2 separate regions of the Homo sapiens genome follow, and region 1 is linked to region 2. The links come from fine-mapping of genetic effects on gene expression. A gene starts in region 2. The other region holds a variant in brackets. All regions are shown on one strand. Distances are between the middles of the regions.

Region 1 (2,821 bases), 840 kb before region 2:
GTAGCCTGATTTCTCCAGCTTTGTTCCTTCTCCTTAGGATTGTCTTGGCAAGGCAGGCTCTTTTTTGGTTCCATATGAACTTTAAAGTAGTTTCTTCCAATTCTGTGAAGGAAGTCATTGGGAGCTTGATGGGGATGGCATTGAATCTAAAAATTGCCTTGGGCAGTATGGCCATTTTCACAATATTGATTCTTCCTATCCATGAGCATGGAATGTGCTTCTATTTGTTTGTGTCCTTTTTTACTTCGTTGAGCAGTGGTTTGTAGCTCCCCTTGAAGAGGTCCTTCACATCCCTTGTAAGTTGGATTCCTAGATATTTTATTCTCTTTGTAGCAATTGTGAATGGGAGTTCACTCATGATTTGGCTCTCTGTTTGTCTGTTATTGGTGTGTAAGAATGCTTGTGATTTTTGCACATTGATTTTATATCCTGAGACTTTGCTGAAGTTGCTTACCAGCTTAAGGAGATTTTGGGCTGAGATGATGGGGTTTTCTAGATATACAATTATGTCATCTGTAAACAGGGACAATTTGACTTCCTCTTTTCCTAATTGAATACCCTTTATTTCTTTCTCCTGCCTGATTGCCCTGGCCAGAACTTCCAACACTATGTTGAATAGGAGTGGTGAGAGAGGGCATCCCTCTCTTGTGCCAGTTTTCAAAGAAAATGCTTCCAGCTTTTGCCCATTCAGTATGATATTGGCTGTGGGTTTGTCATAAATAGCTCTTATTGTTTTGAGATATGTCCCATCAATACCTAATTTATTGAGAGTTTTTAGCATGAAGGGCTGCTGAATTTTGTCAAAGGCCTTTTCTACATCTACTGAGATAATCATGTGGTTTTTGTCCTTGGTTCTGTTTATATGCTGGATTACGTTTATTGATTTGTGTATGTTGAACCAGCCTTGCATCCCAGGGATGAAGCCCACTTGATCATGGTGGATAAGCTTTTTGATGTGCTGCTGGATTCGGTTTGCCAGTATTTTATTGAGGACTTTTGCATCG[A/G]TGTTCATCAGGGATATTGGTCTAAAATTCTCTTTTTTTGTTGTGTCTCTGCCAGGCTTTGTTATCAGGATGATGCTGGACTCATAAAATGAGTTAGGGAGGATTCTCTCTTTTTCTATTGATTAGAGTAGTTTCAGAAGGAATGGTACCAGCTCCTCCTTGTACCTCTGGTAGAATTCAGCTGTGAATCCATCTGGTCCTGAACTTTTCTTGGTTGGTAAGCTATTAATTATTGCCTCAATTTCAGAGTCTGTTATTGGTCTATTCAGAGATTCAACTTCTTCCTGGTTTAGTCTTGGGAGGGTGTATGTGTCCAGGAATTTATCCGTTTCTTCTAGATTTTCTATGCAAATAAGCATAGAGGTGTTTATAGTATTCTCTGATGGTAGTTTGTATTTCTGTGGGATTGGTGGTGATATCCCCTTTATCATTTTTTATTGCGTCTATTTGATTCTTCTCTCTTTTCTTCTTTATTAGTCTTGCTAGCAGTCTATCGATTTTGTTGATCTTTAAAAAAAAAACCAGCTCCTGGATTCACAGATTTTTTGAAGGGTTTTTTGCGTCTCTATCTCCTTCAGTTCTGCTTTGATCTTGTTATTTCTTGCCTTCGGCTAGCTTTTGAATGTGTTTGCTCTTGCTTCTCTAGTTCTTTTAATTGTGATGTTAGGGTGTCAATTTTAGATCTTTTCTGCTTTCACTTGTGGGCATTTAGTGCTGTACTTTTCCCTCTACACACTGCTTTAAATGTGTCCCAGAGATTCTGGTATGTTGTGTCTTTGTTCTCATTGGTTTCAAAGAACATCTTTATTTCTGCCTTCATTTCGTTATTTACCCCGTAGTCATTCAGGAGTAAGTTGTTCAGTTTCCATGTAGTTGTGTGGTTTTGAGTGAGTTTCATAATCCTGAGTTCTAATTTCATTGCACTGTGGTCTGACAGACAGTTTGTTATCATTTCTGTTCTTTTGCATTTGCTGAGGAGTGCTTCACTTCCACCTATGTGGTCAATTTTGGAATAAGTGCGATGTGGTGCTGAGAAGAATGTACATTCTGTTGATTTGGGGTGAAGAGTTCTGTAGATGTCTATTAGGTCTGCTTGTTGCAGAGCTGAGTTCAGTTCCTGGATATCCTTGTTAACCTTCTGTCTCGTTGATCTGTCTAATGTTGACAGTGGGGTGTTAAAGTCTTCCATTATCATTGTGTGGGAGTCTAAGTGTCTTTGCAGGTCTCTAAGGGCTTGCTTTATGAATCTGGGTGCTCCTGTATTGGATGCATGTATATTTAGGATAGTTAGCTCTTCTTGTTGAATTGATCCCTTTACCATTATGTAATAGCCTTCTTTATCTCTTTTGATCTGTGTTGGTTTAAAGTCTGTTTTATCAGAGACTAGGATTGCAACCCCTGTTTTTTGTTTGTTTGTTTGTTGTTTGTTTTGTTTTGTTTTTTTGTTTTTTTGCTTTCCATTTGCTTGGTAGATCTTCCTCCATCCCTTTATTTTGAGCCTATGTGTGTGTCTCTGCACGTGAGATGGGTCTCCTGAATACAGCACAGCAATGGGTCTTGACTCTTTATCCAATTTGCCAGTCTCTGTCTTTTAATTGGGGCATTTAGCCCATTTACATTTAAGGTTAATATTGTTATGTGTGAATTTGATCCTGTCATTATGATGTTAGCTGGTTATTTTGCCTGTTAGTTAATGCAGTTTCTTCCTAGCATTGATGGTCTTTACAAATTGGCATGTTTTTGCAGTGGCTGTTACCAGTTGTTCCTTTCCATGTTTAGTGCTTCCTTCAGGAGCTCTTGTAAGGCAGGCCTGGTGG
Region 2 (2,821 bases):
AATTTAAATAGTTCCTTTAGAGTACATTTTAATAGCCAGTAGTACAAATATCCCTATCTTTACTTACGTTTTAAAATATTTTTTTTCAGTTATTCTTAGCCATTTTTTTCCCCCGGATGAACTTTAGAATCATAGTAAGTTCCAAAAAAACTTGGTATATTTATTGAAATTGCATCAACTGTATAAACCAATATAGGAAAAATGGACATCACTAAAATATTGAGCCTTCTTATTCAGAAGCATAGTATTCCTTCTCTTTTCATGCAGATGTTCTTTTATGGTATTCGTCAATAAAGTTTTATAGTTTACTTCTAGGTATTTTTATTCGTTTCTCTTGCTATTGCGAACAGGTTTTTTATTATTAAAATTTCAAAATGCTTATTGCTTATAGATAGGAAAACTGCCTATATAAACTATTGATATTTGCCTATTTACAAACAAAAATATGATCAATTTCGCCAGTAATCAGGGAAATGCAAATGAAAACAATGACATACGATTTTTTTGCCCTTTAAATTGGCTAAAATTACAAAGATTGATAATACGTGTTGGCATAACTGTGGAAAAATAGGCACTCTCGCACAACATTAAAGAGTGTAAATTAGTACAGGCTTTTGGGAAGGCAATTTGGACAAATCTATCAAAATTCAAAATGCATATACACCCTGACCCAGCGGTTACTCTTCTAAGAATTTCTCCTACAGAAATACTCATACATGGCATGATACATATACACAAACCCATTCATTATGGCATTGCTTGTAATAGTCCCCTCCCTCCCCCAACAGAGAAACAAGCTAATGTATATCAATCGGGAAATGGTTAAATAAACTGTAGTACAATCATACAATGCAGCTGTTTAAAACCCAACATAAATTTGGATTCCCGGATATAAGAAGATCTACAAGACATATTCTCAGATTTTTAAACAAGCAGTTAGTCGAAATGAATGTGTGTGTGTGTGTAGTACCATTTAGATATCAAAACATATATATGCAACGCCTAGTAGTTACCCGCGAAGCCTGCCTGCCCGCCCCTCACCTTCCCTCTCCTCTGAGGCCGCCTTCCTCGAACCAGTGAGAAACGCTGAAGGCCCGGCCTCTACTCTCTCTTTAGGGCCACTTGGCCATGGCTAATGCCGGTACCTCGCATCCCCTCTGTCAGCCGCTCTCTCGCCGCGCCGCCGGCAGCTGCCGGGCTGCCCCCGAAGATGCGGCTAGCTCTCCGCTGGCGCCTGCCGAGGCCTGGGGGAGGGGAGAGGAGGCGGGGTTCAGGGAGGGTTGGGGCAGGCCGCCCTGCCCCTCCAGCAGCCTTTCCCGCAGGCTCCCCAAGGCCGCCACCTCCGCGCCTCCGCGCAGGGTCCCGTGGGAACTCCCCCCCCAACCTCGCCACTGCCACCCGCGAGAAACCGAGAACGGCCGCGCGTACAGAGCTCGCCCTCCAGCCCAGGGATAGACGCTCACCTCGGCCGCAATGGCTCCGCGGGGCCCGCAGGAGCGTGCGGGGTCCGCGGCCCTGCTTCAGCCCTGCTTCAGCCCTGCTCCAGCCCTGCTCCAGCCCTGCTCCAGCCCTGCTCCCCTCGCTAGCCCTCAGTCGAAAGCCTCCTCGCTTCGGCTCAGCTCAAACTCGATTTGGGGCTCCACCCACCGCAAGCGAAGCCCCGCCCCTGCCCCTCGGGAGGGAGCTCCCTCCGCGGTGAAGTCGGGTCCCTTGCAGGGGACCGCGCCTGAGCTACCCAAGGCCCAGTAAATGCAACCATAGAGGATGATAGGGTCGCTAAGAATTGGGATTTGATTCGAGGCACGGTGGAAGCCGCGGAAGGGAACATGATTTGATCTGATTTACCTTTAAAAATTAACGACCTCGCCAGATGCCTTGTGAAGAATGGGGAGTGTGGGGCAAGAGGGCAAGGCTGGACCCAGAGCGGAGGGTGGGAGACGACGTGGGAAGCCGACCACCCAGAGTTCACGCGAGCAAACCCTTAAAACACTTCAGGCACATAGTAAGCCCTCAATAAACATTCTTTTTTCCTCCTTTAATTATTTGGAACGGCAGTGCGATTGACAAGGATCCTGTAGAGGATCTGCATCTGTAAATACATGGGAATAAAAAGGACCTGGTGGGAGATCACCTGTTAACCCTACTTAATTATTGTGGGCTGCGGACGACATTGGAGGGGCGAAGAACTTTGACTTGGAACTCTAGCTACTTCGATAAGGTTTCAATTTTTAATAAAAAGTATGTATTAATTTAGTATTTAAAGACAAAAGCACTATTAAAAGAACTCCTGAGACATCGAGGAAATAAAAACTGTGATTATACCCTCCACTTCTCTAATTCCAGCCCTCCAGAGCAGTGGTTCATCCCTCGAATTGAGAATCTAATGAATGGGTCCCCCACCCCAATATATACTTACACATAAAATTTTGTATATGATCTCAGGAGATGTACAGGGCCCCTTCGAGATACACTGTTTCATTGAATATTTTTACAATTTTTTTTTTTTGAGACAAAGCATCACTCTGTCACCCAGGGTGAAGTGCAGTGGCACGGTCACGACTCACTGCAGCCTCGACCTCCTGGGCTCAAGGATCCTCCTGCCTGCCTACAGTCTCCCAAGTAGCTGGGCCTCCAGGTATGCGCCACCACGCCTGGATAACTTTTTATTTTTTGTAGAGGCGGGGTCTCACTATGTTGCCAGGCTGGTCTCAAACTCTTAGGCTCAAGCAGTTCACCCGCCTCGGCCTCCCAAAGCGCTGGGATTACAGGCGAAAGACCCGGCCCATCTGTAACATTTAGTGGCAACATGAAGCTATACTTT

Direction of the effects. Alleles are on the strand shown, and positions count from the first base shown. SD is a standard deviation of normalised expression in the study named.
With allele G in place of A in region 1, the expression in tibial artery of the gene that starts at base 1,595 in region 2 is lower (small effect, 0.15 SD a copy in GTEx).

Evidence for each region. PIP is the estimated chance that this variant, and not a neighbour inherited with it, causes the effect. A credible set is the group of variants that fine-mapping cannot tell apart.
Region 1: its variant is the best candidate, but not a certain one, in a credible set for the expression of HUWE1 in tibial artery (GTEx, PIP 0.84).

What each region holds. Positions count from the first base shown.
Region 1 is chrX:52,844,907-52,847,727 of GRCh38, forward strand. No RefSeq gene overlaps it. Among named protein-coding and RNA genes, the nearest start is that of XAGE3, 22 kb to the right of the region's middle. The variant A/G (reference allele first, on the strand shown) is at 1,005.
Region 2 is chrX:53,685,125-53,687,945 of GRCh38, forward strand. HUWE1 (HECT, UBA and WWE domain containing E3 ubiquitin protein ligase 1) reads right to left here and starts at 1,595. Exons shown (of 84, transcript NM_031407.7): 1 at 1,464-1,595; 2 at 1,146-1,244. RefSeq lists an enhancer at 939-1,018 and silencers at 1,229-1,528, 1,602-1,776.